4 separate regions of the Homo sapiens genome follow, and regions 2, 3 and 4 are each reported to be linked to region 1. Evidence: microRNA targets listed by miRTarBase, many of them from high-throughput screens and not tested one by one. Region 1 holds a microRNA gene; each other region holds the end of a gene's coding sequence.
What was found. The annotated mature microRNA hsa-miR-7114-5p reads UCUGUGGAGUGGGGUGCCUGU and lies in region 1 at 2,572-2,592, opposite strand. An mRNA with a match to its seed (bases 2 to 7 or 8) in the 3' UTR can be bound and repressed. Matches are read on the target gene's strand: a 7mer-m8 pairs with bases 2 to 8, a 7mer-A1 pairs with bases 2 to 7 and ends in A, and an 8mer does both.

Region 2: miRTarBase lists PPP1R14C as a target of hsa-miR-7114-5p. Seed matches in the 3' UTR shown: 7mer-A1 at 3,760-3,766 and 7mer-A1 at 3,088-3,094.
Region 3: the mRNA of ACIN1 is a reported target of hsa-miR-7114-5p. Seed matches in the 3' UTR shown: 7mer-A1 at 3,722-3,728.
Region 4: the mRNA of ZMIZ1 is a reported target of hsa-miR-7114-5p. Seed matches in the 3' UTR shown: 7mer-A1 at 3,603-3,609 and 7mer-A1 at 683-689.

What each region holds. Positions count from the first base shown.
Region 1 is chr9:137,447,490-137,452,963 of GRCh38, forward strand. MIR7114 (microRNA 7114) reads right to left here and starts at 2,597; the gene lies at 2,537-2,597. It overlaps NSMF (NMDA receptor synaptonuclear signaling and neuronal migration factor), which reads right to left. Exons shown (of 16, transcript NM_001130969.3): 10 at 5,247-5,330; 11 at 5,064-5,097; 12 at 4,876-4,946; 13 at 2,687-2,766; 14 at 2,434-2,536; 15 at 2,110-2,185; 16 at 81-2,002. The coding sequence ends at 1,905. RefSeq lists enhancers at 1,780-2,979, 4,716-5,474.
Region 2 is chr6:150,247,753-150,253,226 of GRCh38, reverse strand. It overlaps PPP1R14C (protein phosphatase 1 regulatory inhibitor subunit 14C), which reads right to left. Exons shown (of 4, transcript NM_030949.3): 4 at 2,835-4,481. The coding sequence ends at 4,407. Among named protein-coding and RNA genes, the nearest start is that of PPP1R14C, 110 kb to the right of the region's middle.
Region 3 is chr14:23,055,366-23,060,839 of GRCh38, forward strand. ACIN1 (apoptotic chromatin condensation inducer 1) reads right to left here. Exons shown (of 19, transcript NM_001386863.1): 19 at 3,199-4,109. The coding sequence ends at 3,783. CDH24 (cadherin 24) reads right to left here and starts at 2,155. Exons shown (of 13, transcript NM_144985.4): 1 at 2,038-2,155; 2 at 168-492. The coding sequence starts at 368. LOC105370705 (collagen alpha-2(I) chain-like) reads left to right here and starts at 2,295. Exons shown (of 2, transcript NR_169511.1): 1 at 2,295-2,677; 2 at 2,920-3,284. RefSeq lists silencers at 2,035-2,154, 2,235-2,384.
Region 4 is chr10:79,311,423-79,316,896 of GRCh38, reverse strand. ZMIZ1 (zinc finger MIZ-type containing 1) reads right to left here. Exons shown (of 25, transcript NM_020338.4): 25 at 378-4,255. The coding sequence ends at 4,148. Among named protein-coding and RNA genes, the nearest start is that of PPIF, 33 kb to the left of the region's middle. RefSeq lists cis regulatory regions at 1-286, 1-292, 1-318 and enhancers at 3,360-3,859, 4,617-5,117.

The DNA of each region.
Region 1 (5,474 bases):
AGAAAGGAGACTCGGATCCCCCATGATTTCACGATATGTCACTTTCAAATAGTAACTGAATAACACAGAGTCTACAGGCATTTGGTATTTACCTAAAACTTTATACACTCAAATTGGCACCAAAACCTGCCCCCTCCCGGGACCCCATCTAGAATGCCCTGGAAGAGCTGGAGGTGGCTGACGGCTGTGTGACCACCCCCAGCACACTGGGCCTCAAGCCTGCCAGGCTGTGCCAGGCTGCGCACCAGTGGCCCCCTGACCCTAGCCCAGCTGATACGTGCTGCTCTGTCCCCCAGCCACGGGGCAGGGAACCAGCTGGCAGCCAGCCTGGCTGTGCCCAGCAGCGGTCTGGGCCCTGAGGACACCTGAGGTTGAGAGAGTGGCCCCCATCTGTGGCCACACTGCTGACTGCACACACAGTGTGGCGTGAGGGACATACAGCCCTCTCCCTGGTGCCCTCAGGCGGCAGGGGGAACGGGCTGTCTCTGCTGTCCCCTCCAGACCCGGCGAGGCCCCCCTCCGAGACTGCAGCCTCCCCCCAGCCCTCCTGCAGCTCCTCTCCGTCCCCTCCTGTGCTGGTCCCCCTGGCTATGCCCTGTGGGGTGGTCTAGTGGCCTAGCTCCAACTCTGTCCAGGCAGGAAGGCCCTGCAGCAGTGACCTCACAGGAGTGGGCCCAGAAGCTGGGCACAGGAAGGCCCCTGGAAAGCACTGAGAGGACAGACCCACGCGGCGGCCGCGGTGGAGGATCAGGTTTAATGGTCACTATGAGGGTATCGTACATCGTTCCAAGCCCGGCCCCCGCCCCAGCCCTCCCTCAGCTGGGAACACAGCCAGGTGCCCTCAGACCCCTGGCTCTGCACAAGGGGGGCCTGCCCCCTCGCCCCAGCTATATACACGACAGCCCATCCTGCTGGCCGTGGACAAAAGCTGGGAGCTCCTGTGCCCAGTCAGGAGCCCCTACAGTCCACCAGCTGCGCGGCCGGGTCCAGGGGCCCACTGTGGTGCCAGCGAGTTTCTCAAAACCCAGGGCCCAGCCCCAGCTGGGCCCCTGCCAAGCCCCAGGCCTGTGTGCTGGGATGGAGCCTCCACACTGAGGCTGGTAAAAGCTGAACTCAACAGCAGCAATGAGAGTGCTGGGTGGGCTTGGGGGGATGGGGAGCAGGCCCCACCCAGAGCCTCCTCTGAAGGAGGGGACGCTGCGCCCTTCCTTCCTGCTGCCCAGACTGCCCCTACCGGGTCCGGCGCCGGCTGAGGTCTAAGTAAGCAGGGATGGGGGGTGGCAAGAGGAGTGTAAGTGAAAGCACAGACAGTCGGAGACTCGGCCAGTGTAGACAGACCCAGAGACTCGGCCAGTGTAGACAGAGCCAGGCTGGGCAGCCCGGCGACGCTGGCCCCACGCACACGGGCCACCCTGGTGCTGGTGATCGATACGGCAGGGAGGGGGTGGGCAGGGAGGGTCCTGAACACATGTGGGCTGCTGGGCTGCTGGGCCGGGGTGCCTACACTGTAACTAGCAGCATAGTGCTTAACTAGTTAACAAGAAATGCTGCTTCCCTTTGAATTGTTTCGGGGGTGTAGAAATTGCACTTATTTCTATGAACCCCATGGAGGGATGCCCACAGCTGAGCCTCCAGGCGAGGCATGGCAGGTCAGTGCCTGGCCGCTGAGCATCCACGGGCCACAGGGCGGGATCCTCCCGGCCCCCAGGGACTGCAGCCTCTGCGGCCACGGGTGCAGCGAGGACCGGAACCCACAGGGGGAACCTGAGCAACGTCTGAGGTGCCCTGAAGTGGCTCCAGGCGAGACCGGAGCCACACAGTCCCGGGGAGCACGAGGCGGCCCAGCCCCAGGTCCCGGTGCAGAGGGAGTGGCCTGATGGTGACTGGGCGGAGGCCTCTGCCCCTCACAGGACGTCGTCAAAGTCCAGCAGCTTCGAGTGCTGGCGGCTCTTCCACAGGCGATACAACCGGAAGTCAAAGTACGTCTCGATCATCTGCTTCCCTGGGCGGAGCGGGGGCAGGAGGCTCAGGCCTGGCCGGCCCTGGGGATCCCACCCCACCGTGGCCCCGCAGTGGCTGCAGAGCTTCGGCCCAGCCTGGGTAACTCACCTTGGGCTGAGAGCTCCAGGGGTGACTCGAAGGTGACCCTATAAGGAGTCATGAGGGTCCTGAGGTTCTGGAACAGCTGGAGGAAGCGGGGTGCCATGAGTCCGAGGCAGAGAGATGGGGAAGGAGGAGCGGGGAGGAGATGGGGAGCAGGGCCCACCCTCTTTTTTCAGACCCCCCAAACCTGGCTGGGCTCAGGCATAAAGGATTTCTAGGGGAATGCCCGGGGGAAGGAAAAAAAATGCCAGGAAACATGGAAGGCTCTGCCCTGTCTGTCCACGTCGGGGGTTTCCAGAGGTCTGGGGTGGGGCTTGGGGGTCACTGTACCTTCTCTCCATTGGGGTTCCCCAGAATGTAGCAGCCCATGATGTGGATGACGTTCGGCTCTGGGTTCACTTTGCTCATCAGGCGGCTCAGCCGCTTCCAGAAGCTGGTGGAGAGGGGTGGGTCACCCAGTGGCAGGGGACAGGCACCCCACTCCACAGAGCGGACCGTGGAGGAGGGGCTGTGGGGGAGGGACATGCCAGGGCCTGGACTCTGCCTCCAGCCCTCCCCGCGCCCAGGGCACCCGGCTTCTCACTGAATCATGTCCTCTTCCTTCTCCACTTTGGCAAAGGTGGCCACCTTGTTCTTGAGGAGATAGAGGTGTCCAGGACCTCCCTGTAAGAAGCTGTGGTCAGGCATCTGCTCCTCCTTCCTCCCCCTCTCCGACACACATGCACCCACGCACATGCGTGGGAGGTAGTTTTGGTCTTCATCCCCCGGCCACGCTTCTTCCCCTTGATCTCCCCCACCACACGTCTTTCCCTTGATCTCCCCCACCACACGCCTCTTCCCTTTGATCTCCCCCCCACGCCTCTTCCCCTTGATCTCCCCCACCACATGCCTCTTCCCTTTGATCTCCCCCACCACACGCCTCTTCCCTTTGATCTCCCCCACCACACACCTCTTCCCTTTGATCTCCCCCACCACACGCCTCTTCCCCTTGATCTCCCCCACCACACGCCTCTTCCCTTTGATCTCCCCCACCACACGCCTCTTCCCTTTGATCTCCCCCACCACACGCCTCTTCCCTTTGATTTCCCCCACCACACGCCTCTTCCCCTTGATCTTCCCCCGCCTCTTCCTCTTGATCTCCCCCCCTCGCCTCTTCCTCTTAATTCCCCCCAATGCCTCTTCCCCTTGATCTCCCCCACCACACGCTCTTCTCCTTGATCTCCCCCCAATGCCTCTTCCCCTTGACCTGCCCGCCACGCCTCTTCCTTTTGATCTCCCCCCCACACCTCTTCCCCTTGATCTCCCCCCCACGCCTCTTCCCCTTGATCTCCCCCTCCACACGCCTCTTCCCCTTGATCTTCCCCTGCCCCTCGTCTCTTCCCCTTGATCTCCCCTGCCACGTCTCTTCCCCTTGATCTCCCCCACCACGTCTCTTCCCCTTGATCTCCCCTCCACGTCTCTTCCCCTTGATCTCCCCCTCCACACGCCTCTTCCCCTTGATCTTCCCCTGCCACACGTCTCTTCCCCTTGATCTCCCGCGCCACACGCCTCTTCCCCTTGTTCTGCCCTCCACGCCTCTTCCCCTTGGTCTTCCCCACCACACGCCTCTTCCCCTTGGTCTCCCCCGCCACGTCTCTTCCCCTTGGTCTTCCTTGGCCACACGCCTCTTCCCCTTGATCTCCCCACCATGCCTCTTCCCCTTGATCTCCCCCTCCACACGCCTCTTCCCCTTGATCTTCCCCTGCCCCTCGTCTCTTCCCCTTGATCTCCCCCGCCACGTCTCTTCCCCTTGATCTCCCCCGCCACGTCTCTTCCCCTTGATCTCCCGCGCCACACGCCTCTTCCCCTTGTTCTGCCCTCCACGCCTCTTCCCCTTGGTCTTCCCCACCACACGCCTCTTCCCCTTGGTCTCCCCCGCCACGTCTCTTCCCCTTGGTCTTCCTTGGCCACACGCCTCTTCCCCTTGATCTCCCCACCATGCCTCTTCCCCTTGATCTCCCCCTCCACACGCCTCTTCCCCTTGATCTTCCCCTGCCCCTCGTCTCTTCCCCTTGATCTCCCCCGCCACGTCTCTTCCCCTTGATCTCCCCCGCCACGTCTCTTCCCCTTGATCTCCCCCGCCACACGCCTCTTCCCCTTGGTCTTCCCCCGCCACGTCTCTTCTCCTTGATCTACCCCCCAAACACCTCTTCCCCTTGGTCTCCCCCAGCCACACGCCCCTTCCCCTTCATTTCCCCCCCGCCACACGCCTCTTCTCCTTGATCTTTCCCCCTCAATGTCTACACCTCTTCTCCTTGGTCTTCCCCAACCCCAGCCTCTTCCCCTTGGTCTCCCCCAGCCACACCTCTTCCCCTTGGTCTCCCCCAGCCACACGCCTCTTCCCCTTCGTTTCCCCCCGCCACACGCCTCTTCTCCTTGATCTTTCCCCCTCAACATCTACGCCTCTTCTCCTTGGTCTTCCCCAACCCCAGCCTCTTCCCCTTGGTCTCCCCCAGCCACACCTCTTCCCCTTGGTCTCCCCCTCAAACACCTCTTCCCCTTGGTCTTCCCACCCCAGCCTCTTCCCCTTGGTCTCCCCCAGCCACACCTCTTCCCCTTGGTCTCCACCCCCACGCCTCTTCCCCTTGGTCTCCCCCACAAACACCTCTTCCCCTTGGTCTCCCCACCCCAACCTCTTCCCCTTGGTCTCCCCCAACTTGACTTCTTCCCCTTGGTCTTCCCCTGCCCCACCACGATTCTTCTCCTGGTCAGGAGACGAGCACTGAGCCCCACCTGGCAGAAAATCAGCATTTTCCAGATCTTGGCTCCCTTGTGGTAGACGTTCAGCTTCCTCTCTATCTCCTCTGTGGGAGAGCGGGTGTGAGTGCTGCGGCCCCCACCCCAGCCCCAGGGGCACCCCCACCTGTGTCTGCCCCTCCCAGGCCTGGAACCAGCAGAGAGAAGGCCAATGAGGCACATACCAAGGATGTCCTCGAAGGTTGCGTGCTCATGGTCCTGGGGACAGACACAGGCCACAAGGCCACATCAAGGCTGCGTCAGAGCCAGCAGCGCCACAGCACCCTGGGGACCTGGGGTGCCGGCGCTGGCCCAGGGTGGGGCCGCAAGAGGGCATCTGTTGGGGGCAGGCCCGGGGCGGGACTCACGTAGAGGATGGGGATGATGGAGGGGTCATCCCGGCGGATGATAGTGGGGATGTACTCAGCCTTGGGCACCTTGGAGGAAATGAGCTGCGGAGACAAAGAGCTGCTCAGGGGCCCCAGGCCCATCCAAAAGCCAAGGGGCTGTGGGAGCCCCCATGAGGCTACCTTCTGGCTGCCAGGCAGCCCAAGGGTATAGCCCTGTGAGACACCCTCCCCCAGGCAGCTGGAGAA
Region 2 (5,474 bases), not on the chromosome of region 1:
AGACAAGAGTCAAAGGAAGTAGATAGGGGCCATAGAGGGACAGATATGACTCATGACTACACAGGCTCACTCTCAAAGTGGCTAGATTCCAGGAAAGGTTCCCAGGAAGCAGAGGGAAGCCCCAGAACCTTTCACTCAGAGGCAAAAATAGGGTGGCTGAGTAGGGATGGGGATGTGTCCAGTAGCTGTGGACCTGCCACTCTCTTGCTAAACAGCAGTCATGTCAAAAACAGCTTAGGTTTCCAAAAGCTGATTTTGCACAGCACACAATCTTTTATGGAGACTTTAGGTGATTGTCTTAGGCTGTTTGTGTTACTATAAAGAAGTACTTGAGGGCAGGCAATTTATACAGAAAAGAGGTTTATTTGGCTCGTGCTTCTGCAGACTGTATAGGAAGCATGGCACCAGCATCTTCTTTTGGTGAGGACCTCAGAAGTTTCCAATCACGGCAGAAGGAGAGCCGGCTTGTTACATGGCAAGAGAGGACGTAAGACAGAGAGGGGAGGAGGTGCCAGGCTCTTTTTAACAACCAGATCTAGAGGGAACTAAGAGTAAGTACTCACTCAATCCCAGGAGAATGGCACCAAGCCATTCATGAGGGGTCTGCCCCCATGACCCAAACACCTCTCACCTCCAACACTGGAGATCAAATTTCAAAATGGGATTTGGAGAGGACAAATATCCAAACTATGTCAGTGATAAATAAGTAAAAACCTGTTTAATTCCTGTGTTTCAGGAATTGAAAATCACCTTGTCCTGAGCTGCTCTTTCTCAGGAAACTGATGGCTGGATACTCCTTGCTCAGCTGCTAAGCCCAAGTCCAGGAGCTTTATGTTATGGGGAAAAGGCAAGAGGACTCTGGATAAGGAGGGCCAGCATCACAGGGCCTGGCTGCACTGCAGATGGGGAGCAGGGAGTCCCTCAGTTCCCAGGAGTGAGGAAGAGCCCCACAGGTGGCTGGGATCTCCTCCATCCACAAGGCCTCCTCCCCTACCCTGCCAGCTCAGGGACCTGGCTCACTTTAAATGTGGCTTCTGGGGTTCACTCTTGTGAGTGGGACTAAGAGTAATTCCCTAAGAGTGGCAAGAAAGTCTAATGGTTATGGGACTTTGGAGCCAAATAGGTTTGGGTTTGAATCTCAGTGTTGTAGCTGTGTGGACTTAGGTAAGCTGCTAAGCCTGAGTTTATTTTCTTATCTGTAAAATGAGAATGCCACCTGCCTCATAAGGTTAAGGTCAGGATTAAATGAGATAAAGCATGCACTTAGCACAGTGCTTTTATTATGATCGTTATAAATGGAAGCCACTCCATGAAGTTTACATTGAGATTTCCCAATGTTCAAGTGAGCGCGGCACTAGAAGTTGGATAATTTGGAGCCATTGCCCTAGTGAGAAGACTCTGTATGAGAAATAGTGAGTGTGCTAATACCACAGCTGCCACCTGCTGTAATAGCATAAACATGGAGAGCTGAGGTCAGGCTAATGCATCTGGCCATCCAATGGCACAAGAGTGACCCAATGGCCCAGCGATGCGCAAGCTGGAGAGCTTGAAAACAAACACCCCAGCTCTTGTCCTGGAGACGCTGATTTAACTGGTCAGAATTGACTGAGGCCTAGGCTTCCATTGTTTTTAAAGCTTCCCAGTGATTCAAATGTACACTCAGATCTAAGAACCACAACTCTAGCTGGGAAGAAAACAGTGGAGTTTTCTTGAATCTTTTGTCATTTTCATTCAACTGGCAAACACACAATCTCTTTGATGGGCCAAGCCTAGGACCAGATGCTTGGTGAAGTCCAGATTCCCAGCCTCGAGGATCCCAGATTCTAACAGAAGACACCAACAAATGGATAGGCAATAATGATACTGTGGATGCGTCTATGACAGAGTATAGGCTGGAGCTGAGGGGGAACACACCTAGGAGGGGGTCTAACCCAGCTCTCTGGATACAGCCTGTTGGCAGAGGGGGCGTTCTGGGCCAAGGCAACAGATTTTACAAAGCACCAGAGAAGAAAATACATAGAACACGCCAGAAACTCCAAGGAATTTGGCAGAACTGGGCATGAGCACAAGGCCAAAAGATGAGGTGGGAGAGGCAGAGACAACATTTCTCATAAGGCATGCAGAGGGTTCGGGTTTCAAGCAGGGGGTGGAGTCGTCAGACTATTCTAGCAACTGGGTGGAGGATGGATCAGAGGGAGACAAGCCTGGACATGGAGAATCTGTTCCCAAGGTGGTGGCAGCAATCCAGGAAAGTTGGACATGGGATAGGTTTGAGAAGTATTCACAGAGGACAAGCTGGGTGACTGGGAGCATACTGGGGAGTCAAGGAAGAGGCCCAAACTTCTTGCTGAAGCACTCACGGGGATCAGGGCAGGAGGGAAGGTGGGGAGGAAGTGTGTGGTGGGAGCAGAGGCCTTTGGAGGAAAAGTCAATTCTTACTTCATCTGAGACCATCACATGGGCTGGTCAATTAAGCCTAACAGAAATCCTGCCCATTCTGTATTTTTCCGACTTCCATGGTGCAAGGCATTCTAACAAGTGGAATAGTTTACTAATTTGAAATGTTTTTGAGGGTTCTTGTAAGATGGCAAAGAGGAGTTTTAATTAAATGAAAGGAGCATGGCCTAGGACAGTGCCAGGCTGAGCACACAGAGCTCGTCTTCTTTCTCAGCCCAAGAATGTGGCCCAGCTCCTTTGCTTTCACCACCTGATCTGAAGATGCCTGAGGAGAGGGCCAGGATTACATGCCTAGAAATCCTTGAAAATGAAATGAAACGAGGTGAGGTGCTTGGTCCTCACCTCTGCAGAGAAACTGACACAGCAAAACCATCATGTTAACGTGTTGTGCAAGCCACACATGTCAACAGGCTTGTAAGCAGCTCCATTTATTTGAGTAAATATCTTGTAAATAAATCATTGGTAAACAATACAAAATTAAATACATTTTCAAAAGCTTGCCAGTATACGCAAAATTCACAAACATAGTTTTTTTAAAAAATAAAATATGTTCAGAGCACCCTTGATATAAAATGCCTGACCCCCATCCTTGGACAAGGCCACCTGAAGACATCTTATGGTAGGTGGGTTTCTGTGGGAGTCAGCGGGGGCCTCCTGGAGGGAAGGGTTTCTACTCTCACCTATTACCCATCCCACATTCCATCTGAATTTTGATCCTTCTCCAAAGAGCTGGTAACTGAGAGGGCTAGAGCACGCCACCAGGCCTAGCTCCAAGCACGGGGATCAGGGTGCACAATTAGGGCCAGGAGCACCCAGAGTCCTCAACACAAGCCATTGAGAGAAGCCAGAAATGCAATCTCCACACTTCCAAACCAGCAACTCAGCTCCTAGAGCAACTGTCTTGAGAGAATGTGAGGCTTTCTCACCTTGACACTTAACACTCGGTTTACTCCCACTGGTCTGATACTACCCAGGCACAGAAGCTACCAGAACCTATTTCTAAGGAAGAAGACACTCGATCTGCTAACTTTCTTTTGATCTGCTTTCCTGGAGAGAGAATAAACACAGTACTCGGTGGAAAGCAGACAATTCACTGCTACACAGTGCTTCCTTTTTCCAATGCAAAATACCACTGAGATAGTGTGGATATTTCTCTAGAAATCAAGTTAGTTCTTCAAATTAAGGGTTCATACAACTTTAAAAGACTACAAAATGAGACAATAAGCACATGACCTGGCAAAGCATCCCAACCAATGAAATAATAGAAATTCCATAAATTAAGCCCTTGACCAACTTAACATTTCTGTGGTGTAGTGCATTAAAATAACGGATACACTGAATTCTTTCACTTTGGTGCATAAAGTGAACGTTGAAGTCAGCAGCACTCAGTGAAGAATGCCTAGTGGCCTCTTGAAAACACATGTGCTGGGACCTCCAGTTAAAGGACAACCACAAGTTTATTCCATCCATGTGAAATAAAACTCACATCAACATTTTAACTTAGTTGTGTGTAGATATATACAAGTGTGAGAAATTTGACAGCTGAGTCAAATGTACAACTTAAGAAAAAAAATATTACCAAACTACTTGTAAGAAAACTATCTTCCCTGTATCATAAGGTACTGAACATCTGAGTCCTTGCAGGAAACGCAGCCTGGCGTGGCCCTTCCTTGAGTGTCCACCTCCTTTGATAATCCTTGGTTAGGCTGTGGCTAGAGTCATGATATCTTTGCTATTAAAATATTACATTAACAAAAACCTTTAAAACCAAAAAAAGAACGCTCTTGAATAAATGTCTAATAGACCCCCCCACCTTCACACCAAAAAAGAAAAAAAAAAAAACAAAAACGTTGTTCATAAGGACACCTATTCTTTCACAAAAGTCTTCATGAAGTACAAATCCCAGGACTCTTTCTTCGTCTCTGGGAGAGTTTCACCCTGTTCCAGAATCATACACTCTTCTTCTGCGGAGGGCTCAGTTTCCTCATGCCTCTTATCCGAGAAAGCAGCTCTTTGATAAATTCCTAAAAGAGATCAGAAGAAGTTAATATGAGGGTCACTATTAAAATTCTGTGTTTAAAAATCTGCTTAAAGTAATTGATGTCAACTGCAGTTAACCTTAGTTGATGAATTTGGTTGAATGTGTTAACCCCCACTGGTATAATACAGGATTTTTAAAAACAAATCAAGAATACTAAAACTTCACACCACAATGCCTTCTTATTGTTCTACTTTCTTTACGGGGGAAACCAGGCTACTTTCACTACTGACATGACCTACTTGGCCCCTGAGGCATTTGTGTTGAGATCAGAGCTATTTAACATTACCATGCAAATAAATTAACTGGTGATCTCACAGATTCTGAGTGAGCCTGTCCAGGTTGGGGTCTGAGATTCTGCATTTCCAACTAGCTCACAGGTGATGCCAGTGTTAGTCCTTGAACCTCACCAAGAATGGCAAGGCTGGACTAGTGTGCCTCAAATTTGAGTGTGCATCAGAATCACCAGGGGGACTGCTATGGTTTGAATGTGTCCTCCAAATTTCATGTATTGGAAACTTAATCCTCAAATTAATATGTTGATGGCATTTGGAGGTAGGGCCTTTGGGAGGTAGTTCGGATTAGATAAGGTCATCAGAGTAGGGCCCCCAAGATGGGACTGGTGACTTTATAAGAAGAAGAAAGTCCTGAGCTGGCACACACTTGTCCTCTCACCATGTGACAACCTCCACCATGACATGACGCAGCAAAAAGGCCCTCTCCAGATGCCAGTGCCATGCTCTTGGACTTCCCAGCCTCCAGAACTGTGAGCTAAATAAACCTCTATTATAATAAAATACCCAGCCTGTGATATTCTCTTACAGCAACAGAAAATTGACTACTAAGACAGGGACTCATTAAGGACCACACAGTGCTGGGACCCACCACTAGTGTTTGTGATTCAGTAGATCTGGGTGGGGCCCAATAAGGTACATTTCTGACAAGCTCCCAGGTGACACTGATGCTACTTATCACTGGA
Region 3 (5,474 bases), not on the chromosome of region 1:
CGAAAAGATGGCAGAGGGCTCCAAGTACAGAGACAGGGTTAAAGAGTCTAGGTTTGGGTAGAGCGTTGGGAGTCCTGAGGGACCAAGGTCATTGCAGAAGTGATGAAGTTGCAGGGCAGGGCCTGAGGGCTTGGTGTCAGAGTAGACATGGGAGGGGTCATCCTTACCTTGCCAATGAGAACAGGCTCTGGACCAGCATATTCCTCAATGACAAAGAACTGGTTCCAGACCCAGCTCCTTCGAGTCCGCAGCAGAGCAGGCCCTGGGTGTTCCCGGGACCCTGCCCAGGCCCGGGCTGGGGCTGCCAGACGCCCCATGCAGCCCCAGCCACCCAGCCAGGCCAGCAGGAGCCTCACCAGGCCCCACATGTTTGGACTCCAGCCAGGGCTCTGTTCACTGGCCCTGGGTGCTGAGGCTGGGCCAGGCCACGTGGCCCATGAGCTGGCTGGGGTGGAGGGGCAGATGCGTTGAGGCTACCCCATGGATCCACACCTGCAGGACAAGCAGCTGCTCAGGCTCAAGGAAACCCCTAGCCCTCCTCCCCCGCAAAATTAGATGCTGAAGACCAGACCTCCAAGGAACCAGACACTCCACTGCCCAGAACTCAGACTAAGACAGAGAGCAGAGAGGCTGATCCTTCCTCCACCCAGGCTCTGCATGTATTCACCTCCAGCCCTCCAAGCTGATAAATCTCTGGTCAGTCAACTCTGAGTAGAGAACTGGGGAGGAACACAGGAGAGGGGATGCTGGGAGGGCTTGGAATCCCAAATCTGGTCTCTGTCCTCCCAGGTTGGGCACGTAGCCAGGTATTGGAGGAGGCGGGGCTACCAGAGAAAGGGCTTAAAATTACGGAGTTGGGATTCATGGAGGTGTGGCCTTAAGGTGTCTAGGGTCAGCATGAGATGACAAGGAGTGCAGCCTCAGGCAGGGCTGAGAGTCTGTGAAAGTCCCTCCCCACAAGGGGGAGCCCCACTCTCCAGGCCCTGTCTCCAGCCCACGCTGCCAGTGCAGTCCTTGAAGGGGGACTGGGCTCGTGAGACAGGAGTTGGGAGCCAGAGCTGAAGGAAGAGGATACAGGGTGGGGGACAGGGGGAGGTGACCGGGGAGAGAGGTCCACCCAGAGGCTAGAGACAGATAATGACTGACGGCTAGACTGACTCAGGGACTGTCCGGCAGAGAAATGACTGGATGAGAGACAGAAACAGAACAGTGGCAAGAGACAGAATGAGAGAGACCAGGGCAGCAGCCTGGGTGTCTGAAGGCAGAGAGGAGTCCTAGGGGCCAGGCTTGGAAACGGGTCACCGGGGGCAGTTCCGGGCAGGCAGGGGCAGACCTCAGCTTCGGGGGTGTCAAGCCAGGCCTCGGGAACTTAATTCTGGGAGAAGGAGCAGACAGGAGGGGTGGAGGCAGGGAGGGGCCACGGGAAGGGAGCTAGAGAGGAGACCCTTCCCACTGCTCTCCTTTCTCCTAGGGGCGGGGGGGAGGACCCCTCAGGTAGCTGTGGCTTCTGCCCCTCCTCCCTCAGAGCAGACACACACCTGACAGTCCCTTTGCTCCCGAGGGAAGGGGGAAACCGGAGGAAGGCTGGGGACCAGAGAGAAGGCGGGATGAGGAGGCGAGAAGGAAGGGGATAGAGGAGTGGGAAACAGGATAGCAGGAAGGGGAGAGGAGAGGGAGGGAAAGGAGAGCAAGAAAGAGAAAAGAGAAAGGCAGGAAAGGGGAGAAAGGTAGAGAAAGAAAAAGGCAAAGAGGGAGAGGAGATGGAAAAAGGACAAGAGGGAGAGGGAAGGGTTGGGGAGACAGAGGGAAGGGATAAGGAAGGCAAACAGGCAGAGAAGGAAGGGTGAAGAGAAATCGAGAGAAGAAAGAGGGAGAGAGGTGCGAGGGGAGAAGGGAAAGAGGCAGAGCGCGGGAGAAGGGAGCCGGCAGCGGGCTCCCAGCCACGGAGCGCACCCCTCCGAAGACCCCCGCAGGCTGCGGGCCCCCTCCTACCCCTCCGCGGATTCCCGACCCCTGCTCCGGGGCAGGCGCCCTTACCTGGCACTGCCGAGGGGCCCAGGCCGGCGGGAAGCGCCCCCGCCCGCCCCCGTCGCCGGGTCCCGGGGGCACAGCCCCGAGCCGATTGGAGCGGGCGCCGCGGCTCCGCTGCAGGTCTGAGCGGCCCCGGCGAGAACAAGGGAGCGAGACGGAGGGGGCGGGGGAAGAAGACTCCGCCTGCGGAGGAGCGAGGCGGCTCCGCGCCGCGCGGGAGAGGAGAGCCCAGCCTCCGACCCTCCCCGGCCAGCCGGGCCCGCGCGGCGGGGGCGGGGGCGGAGGCGGCGCCGCGCGTCCGCCCCCTCGGCGCTCCTGGGCTGCGGGGCGCATACAGATGCGGCGCCCCTCCCGGACCGGGCCCGCAGCGCCCGGCAGGGCACTCGGGCGGGAGGACGTCCAGGCCACGGCGCCAGGCCATTTCCGAAGAGCTGGCGGGGCGGGTGCACCCGGGAGCGCGAAGCTGCCAGTCCCCGCCCGCAGCGGAAAACGGGCGAGCGCGCGGTGAGGTGGGGAATTCGGAGCCCACTGCGGAGAGACCCGGCTCCGGGCTCCCGGTTCCCGGCTGGCTTTTGGGACTGGTGTGGATGGAATCCCAGCTGCAAGGCGGCGGCGTTTTGAGAGCCCATGCAAAGCACGGTAGCAGGTCAGCTGGGGGACACTTAAGGACGGCAGAAGGGTCCAGAGAGTCCGAGGCCCGGGCCCAGGGAGCGGGTCGGGAACAGAGGCACGACATCGGCGGGAGGTCGGAGGCGGGCAGTGGAACCCTTCTTGGGAAGCTCGGTTACAGGGGCCAACAGAGCGAGGAGCTGCCGCCCCCTGGTGGTAGTTGTGGGAGGCACCAAGGTGGCAGGCAGGTGACCAAACCCCTAATTTAACCGTGCACAGGACCAGGAACCAGAAGAGGACCCACCCTCCTAGCCCTGCTGGGGTGCCGCCACGGACACAGGTTGCTCCATGCCTTCCCGAATGAGGAAGGTCCACAGCTTTGGGTTGGTCAGGGCCAAGGCAGGGGATAAAAGACGTGGGAAGTTCAATAAGCAGGAAGCAGTCAGCCTAAAGGAACACATGGAATGAGAGCAACTCCTACTCCAGATATCCTCAGATGTCCACGCTCAGATATCCACAGTGGCTTCTTAACCTGCCCAAAGAAAGCCACTCACACAGTTTAAAACTAAGTCAGATTTTTATTTTTTTTTCCATAGACCACATCATTTAATAATAAAAAAAATAAAAATAAAAATTGAACAAAAGGAAAAGGTGGATATAAAGTGGAACCTGTGGGAAAGAGGCAAGGGCTGCAGGACAGAAGAGACTGGGAACTGCAGGGGCCCTGGGACTCAGGAGGAGATGCTGATTCAGCTCATAGGTGACCCAGTCCTGGCCCCGGCTGTTCCCAAGAGAAGGCTGTAAGTACCCAGGGAGGTGGTAAGCAGGATGGAGGAAAAATCAGAGGACTGGGGCACCTGGCTGTTCCCCATCTCTGGCCAACCACCTCCTTGCCTAACCTAGCTCTTGCCTCTCAGACTTAATGGGAAATGAGAGGGAGGGTCGGGCTAAGTCCCAAGAGATAGGTTAAGGGGGTGTGTTTGGGGGGAAAAGGATGGCCACTTTTCCATTTGGTATGTATGTAGGGATAGGTGATGTGAAAGACCCTTGGCTCCAGGGTGGTGGAGACTGTGCCTATCCCTCTGTGGCCATAACCCCCTGGGGCCGAGTGGCTGGTACCTGCAGCTCTAGTGTTTTCCCAGCTAGCGGCGCCCACCCCGGTCCCGCACAGGTGTGCTCCGACTCCGGCTTCTGCTGTGGCGCTTGGTGTCCCTGCGATCCCTTTCCCTGCCTCGTTCTCGGTCCCTTTCCCTATCCCGATCTCGGTCCCCCCTGTCCCGCTCCCTTTCTCTCTCTCTCTCCCTGTCCCTCTCCCGACTGTGCTCCCGACGTTTCTCTCGCTCCAGCTGTCGGTTCCGTTCCCGCTCGGCTTCCTTCTCCCGCTCCTTTTGCTCTTCTTCTTCTTGCTCCTTTCGCCGCTTCTCCCGCTCCTTGGCCCGTTCGGCCCGCTCTGCCTCTTTCTGAACGATCTGTAGCCAGGTAGGAAAGGCAGAGAATAGGCAGCTCAGTCCTGGTCACAGCCTCCATTTGTGCCTGGACCCTGCCTCCTAGCTCAGGGTCAGCTTTTCAGTTAAACAGGAAGGGGTTGGGGGCTCAACAACTGCATCCTGTCTTTCTTAGAGCACCTCTCTCCCTCCTAGTTTCAGCCTTTTTTTTTTTTTTTCTGAGACGGAGTCTCGCTCCGTCGCCCAGGCTGGGAGTGCAGTGGCACGATCTCGGCTCACTGCAAGCTCCACCTCCCGGGTTCACACCATTCTCCTGCCTCAGCCTGCTGAGCAGCTGGGACCACAGGCGCCCGCGACCACGCCCGGCTAATTTTTTTGTATTTTCAGTAGAGACGGGGCTTCACCGTTGTTAGCCAGGATGGTCTTGATCTCCTGACCTCGTGATCCGCCCGCCTCAGGCTCCCAAAGTGCTGGGATTACAGGCGTGAGCCACCGCGCCCCGCCAGTTTTTTTTTTTTTTTTTTTTTGAGACAGTCTCACTCTGTCGCCCAGGCTGGAGTGCAGTGGTGCTATCTTGGCTCACTGTGGTCTCCGACTCGCAGGTTCAAGTGATTCTCCTGCCTCAGCCTCCCTAGTAGCTGGGATTACAGGTGTCTGCCACCATGCCCCACTAAGTTTTGTATTTTTAGTAGAGATGGGGTTTCACCATGTTGGCCAGGATGGTATCAAACTCCTGGCTTAGATGGAGGCTTAGATGATCCGCCCACCTCAGCCTCCCAAAGTGCTGGGATTACAGGCATGAGCCACCATGCCTAGCCACCAAGTTTCAACTTTTACACACATTGACAGGTACTGGCACCATCCATGCCTGGCCCTTGGTATTTCCCTAGCTCCCTACCGTCAGCGTAGATGTGAACAAATCTCTTTTTTGAGTAGCATAAGCCTAAAATTCCCAAAAGGCCCATTACTAAGAAACTAAGTTAAAGATGCAAAAACTCTTAAAAAGCAGGGAAATGAATTTATAAAACACGATTTCTCAGCTAAATACAATCAAGTTCTTTTTTTTTTTTTAATTGTCTGAGACAGAGTTTTGTTCTTGTTGCCCAGGCTGGAGTGCAATGGCACGGTCTCTGCTCACTGCAACCTCCGCCTCCCGGGTTCAAGCAATTCTCCTCCTCAGCCTCCCAAGTAGCTGGGATTACGGGCGCTTGCCACTGCACCCGGCTAATTTTTGTTATTTTTAGTAGAGACAGGGTTTCCATGTTGGCCAGACTGGTCTGCAACTCCTGACCTGAGGTGATCCACCCGACTCGGCCTCCCAAAGTGCTGGCATTAGAGGCGTGAGCCACCACGCACGGCCTAAAATCAAGTTCTAAGAAGCCTGGTCGG
Region 4 (5,474 bases), not on the chromosome of region 1:
ACAGCACCCTCTGTGGCTTAATATGAATAGCTTCCTGCTACTTAAACCCAGCATAATCCACAAGGGACCATCAAAGATGGGACACTGTTGCACACTCTGAGTCACATGCCACAGGGGCCCCTAGCACCCTGCAGCCACCTGGCCCTATTCAGCCACCCCAACTCCCCCAACCATCCGGCCACACACTGCACTTGCCCCACCAGGGACTGGTTCCAGGGACCCCCATGGACAGGGGTTCTTCCAATTCAACACCCAAACCACCTGCCTTTCTTTTTTGTGTGTGCAGAGGGTAACAGGGCGGGGGGTGTGGTTTAAAACAAAAGCAAAAACACCCAAACCACTCCTTAACATCCACAAAATAGCTAATTCGCCAAACCTTTGTTTTTGTCAATTTATTTAGAAAAAAATTAACATGGGCAAATGAGATACCTCAGTGTTACAACAGAGTATAGAAATGTCTAGCAATAGTCAAATAATTTGATCTTTAAATACAAAATAACCACATGAACACCTAATATACAGGTTTCATCTGAATACATATTTATTAGATAAATATTAGAGGTTGTCACATCATCTAACTACATACAGCTTTGCAAGACTAGAAATCACAATTAGTTTTTTGACCAGTTTAAAGTATGAAATGATTGCATTGTACATACGATGTACAAAGACGATGATGGTTTCTGTGGGAGTTACTTCAGGCTGCACTGGTGGGTGTGTTTATGTGTGTACGTGTGAATCACCTGTGATCATGATATCAAAAATTATACAAAGTATGAATTTGGTTACAATTTTCTTCTGAAATCCCCGTTTCTTTTCATTATTTCCATAGCACCCTAAAAATACACAGGTGGCAGGACTAGTACACTGAAGCTAAATAGTACATGTAGGTAAAATAAAAACAGAACAAAAACCCCTTTCCACTCAGGGTCAGAGTATATTACATGAGCGAGAGAGACAGACGTGGAGAACTCACAAATGCTATAACCAACAGGATCTAGTTTTTCCACGTGATGGAGTTCCAAGCTTTTTTTTTTGTTTTGTTTTGTTTCGCAAAATAAAAACAATACACATTCCAAGAGAAATGAATGCATCTGTTGACACGTCTCTATTTCTCATTTACATATGTACACACGTCCCTTGAGTCGCTGCTGTTGACACGGCCCTGTGTGGACGGGTCAGGCCCGAGGCCCGTCGGGAGCAGACCTGTAGCTCTCTGGGGGATCAGGGCTTCCATTAGGGAGAAAGTATTAGCAGTTTCTTAAAAAATAAAATGGCTACACGGAACATGATACATGGATAAAGCTTCAAACCAAGAAGATGGGGGTGATTGCCTGTACTTGGCCCTTCCCGCCTGCCTGCTGGCTCCCTGTCCATCTTGCGGAGTGGCGGCAGAAACATGCCTGTGGGCCGGGTGGATGCTTGGCATGGAAAAGTGGCTTGCAGAGGCCTCGTTTTTGCTGAGGTTACTTATGGCTCCAAGTAGTCGTCCGAAAGGATCAGGGAAGGATCTCTCCAGAGTTCAGGACCATCTCTGTTTATGGGCGTTGTCTACCTGCACCTGTCACAACCTGGGGCTTGCTCCCGCCCCGGATGCCTCTGCACCTCCCTCACACCCTGGCCTGGCTCCCAGAGCACTCCGGAAGAGCTTGTCTCCAGACTGCAGGCTGTAGGCACCACGCACGGTTCAGAGCCAGCCGGAAGGGAAGCTCTGGGCCGAGCTTGCTGGTGGAGGCTTGCTGGAGAGGGGACCCAGGAAACCCGCCTCAGGTGCTGAGCCCAGAGATGGTTGCAGGAGGTGCCCGGGGCCTGGGCTGCAGGGAGCATCTCGACTCTCCGCACTGGAAAGCCGTGGATCCACCTGTGAGCAGAGTGTGGACACACCCTGATAAGAACCAGAATGAATCCCAGGCCTTTCTGGGGCAAAGTATCAACGCAAGAAGCAAGAACTCCTAAGGAAGGCATCTGTAAGTCTGTCTGGAGCTTAATTCCCAGATGGTCTGACACAGGGCGTGGCCACTTGCCAGGCCACAGACACTGGGCAAGGGTGGCCACATGCTACCTGGCGTTGGCTTGTCCCTGCCAGCTGACTGAGGGATGGCTCTAAATAGCGGGCTGCCCGGTCTTCCAACTCCCAGCACAGCCGCCCATTCTGTTCACCCCTTCAACTGTACAAATAGCCCTGGTTGCTTTTTTTGTTTTTGTTTAAAAAAAAAGAAGACTCGGTCTTTGTCATTGAGTCCAGGTATTTTAAAAACACCAGCAAAGGCTATAACCAGGTCATGAAAATGTTGAATATTATCAAAGACGATACTAAAATATTCACAAAGATATTTACAAAAGCGATTCTTAAAATAATTGATTTGCATACTGAACAACACGCTATTTGAAAAAACCTCGACAACGGGACAAAGGAAGAAAAGGGGCCGGGGCAATGGCAGCTTTCCTACAGAAAACCTTGTGCCGTCTGGGACAGTGACTGGAAGTCAACAGCTGGGGCCACCTTTCCGGTAAAACCCACAGAGGAGAGCTGGGGACCACCCACAGCGGACGGGAGAGCAGGAAAGGGCCCCAGGCAGCAGCCGGGAAGGGCGCAAAGAATTTACAGATGGGACCCCAGTGACGGGACAACCTGGCATCACCCTAGGCCATGTGGCTCACGGGGCACAGACCAGCCTGAAACAAAGTGAACACAGGACAGGCTCCCCAGGAGGCCCTGGAGAGTGGTAAGCCAGATGGAGCAAAGCGGTGGAGGGAAGGCCAGAGGCTGCTTTTGCTTGAGTGAGCAGGAGTTTGGGTGAGATTGTGATGGTGGAGGAGTGCAGGCAGGGTAGGCTGGCAGCCAAGGGCAGTGTCTGGGGCAGGCCCAGAAACACGCCCCCCTCCCCCCCATGCCTGCAGGTACATACTGGTGCACATGTCCATGGCCTGGGCTGCAGCCGGGGGCAGCTTGGAGCACAGGGACAGAGGGAGGGGCTGGACAGACACCATTGCCCTGGGCTCTGGTTTCTGCACCTCCCCGGCCTTTCCACGCACTGCCCTTGCCATCTGATTGGACAAAGAGAACTAGGACAGAGGGAAGTGGGTGTCCCACGGAAGTCTTGGAGAGGTGGCAGGAGAGGGACTAGGAGAAAAACAGAACAGACGGAGAGAAATGGTTTGCTTGCTGTCCAAGAGCAACGTTCCTTTTCTCCAGGTGACTTCATAGCTTTAAATTGTTGCTGTTTAAAAAGAGAGTGGCTTGGAGCAAAGTTAGAAGTTGCCGCTCCTGTTTGCTTCTGACAGGTTATATGCCCGCGCCCCCCAACCAAGGGCACAATCACTTTGGTTGGGTGTACACCTGCTCTCTCTGTTCCCCAAGCCTGGGCCCTGTCTGAGCTTGGAGGTGGAGCCTCAGGGACGTCCTGGCTCAGAAGATGTCCTGGCCCTCTTCCCCACCAGTCCCCAAGCAGGAATGGCAGACCCCCTCTCAAACACAGACTCTTGTCCTTTTTCTCTGCTTTCTGAGTGTGTTTATGGGGTATCTTGGCTTATAGGTCAGGGGTCAAACCGATGACCCCTGGCCCCCGAGAGACGTTGTCTTTCCCAGAGGTTTGTGCTTTTCTGTGGTGGGTGGTGGTGGGTGGGCTGGTCTCACTGCCACCAACTGCCAGTGCTCCTCCAAGGCTCGGGGCCCATGCTGGGGCCCGGGGGCCTTCTCAGGCTCCACAGTCACTGGAGGGAGGCTCTGGACCAGGAAGCAGGGAGGCAGGGTTACAGTCTAGAAGATGGAAGAACCTTGGGGACACTGGAAGGTCATCTGGAATCGGCACACGCGGAGGGACCGGGAAGCCGCATCAGCGTGTGCCCTCTTACCGGGCTGGTTCCTCTCGGGAGGGTGGTCTTCAGGCCTGCGCTGGGCATGGGCCCAAGCCAAGGGTGTGGAGGTGGGACGTGGGCTCCAGACCCACACAGCCTTCCTGGTGCACTGGTGCACCCTCCCTACCCCTCTGTTCTGAGAGGGCTGCAGCGGGGGAGGGCTCCCCGCCCCACAGCCCGTGGCTCTGGTGCGGGGCGGTCTGAGGGCACAGGCTCCCAGGTGGAAAAGTGTGTTGGGTAGGTGGGGTAGGATGCAGAGTGTGGAGGGATGGCCCCGACCGGGTGGCCCTCAGTTGTTCTCAAATAGAGACAGGAGGTCATCGTTACTATTGCTCGGCAGGTCGGGGGGGTCCAGATAAGACAGGAGCTCGTCAGGATTTGTGAGTTCGGGAAGGAGCTGGAAAAGAAGGAGTAATGAAGTTCAGATGAGGTGTGCCTGAGAGGCAGGCCCCGGGTGAGGAATGCAGGGGCGCCCTGGCCCGTCCCCCTCCACCTGCCTCTCAGGACCCTAGCCAAAAAAAGGGGTAGAGAACAGCCTTGGGCTTGGGCCTGCCAGGTATCCCCACACATACCCCGGCCACTGCACCGAGTGTGGGGCACCCCCATGCTCATTTCAAGCCTCAGGATTGGGACCCGCAGCCCACCAGCTGAGGCCTGAGCAGGGCTGACCCTTTTCAGGCATGGACTTCAGCCCTAACCTGGGAAGGCCCCATGGCAGGTCACTTGGGCCTCCCAGCTGAAATCACATGCTTCACGTGTAAGCACAAGGAGGTGGGCTGGTGGGAAGGCGGGAAGGCGAGTGGTTCCTGCACCGCCCCCAACCCCCCAACATCCCTCTTCTCAAGGGCTCGCCACTCCTTGGTGAGCCTGTGGCTGGCTGGCAGCCATCCTTCCCTGTGGCCCCGGAGGGGATGCAGACTGTCTCTACCCTCTACTGAGATATCCTTGGAGTCTGTCACATGGGGAGCCTCATGCATCTAAAAGCAGCCCCACTGGCCTGGTTTGAGGGGGAACACTGGGCAAGGACCTGAGATGGCTGCACAGTGAGTGAGTCCTAGCTAGCACAGAGCTCCTCTGATGCTGCAGGGCAGAGGCTGACAGAGCAGGGCTGGGGGTGAAGAACAGGAGGGGCCGAGGACAAGCCTCCTCCCGGAGTCTGGCACCAGCTCTGTGTAGGCATGGGCGGGGCCGGTGCTCAGTCCCATCCCGCCAGCCCCATCCAGCAGCCCAGCCCCATCATCCAGGGTGACCCCCACCATCTTCCAGACCTCAGGGTAGGAGCCCTGGCACCTCTGCTGCCCATGATGGCCTGCTGCCCCTGGCTGTGACCCAAGGCTGCCCCCTCTGCCCCCACCTTCTGTCACCCACATGGGGGCCTCTTGGAGTGAGCGATGGAGCAAGCAGAAGCAGGGCATGGACAACACGCGGACAAGAAAACTGGAGACAGACACACACCAGCGAGGCAGACAGACGGCCTCTCCCTCCAGCCCTCCCTGCCCGGGCCAGAGAGGCAGACACAGAAACCGCAAGCTCACCATCGGGGGAGGGCAGGGACCCTCCTGTGCTGCGCAAGGGACCCCGCAGGGCTTGGGTCAGAAGGTGGGTCAGGGCTGGGG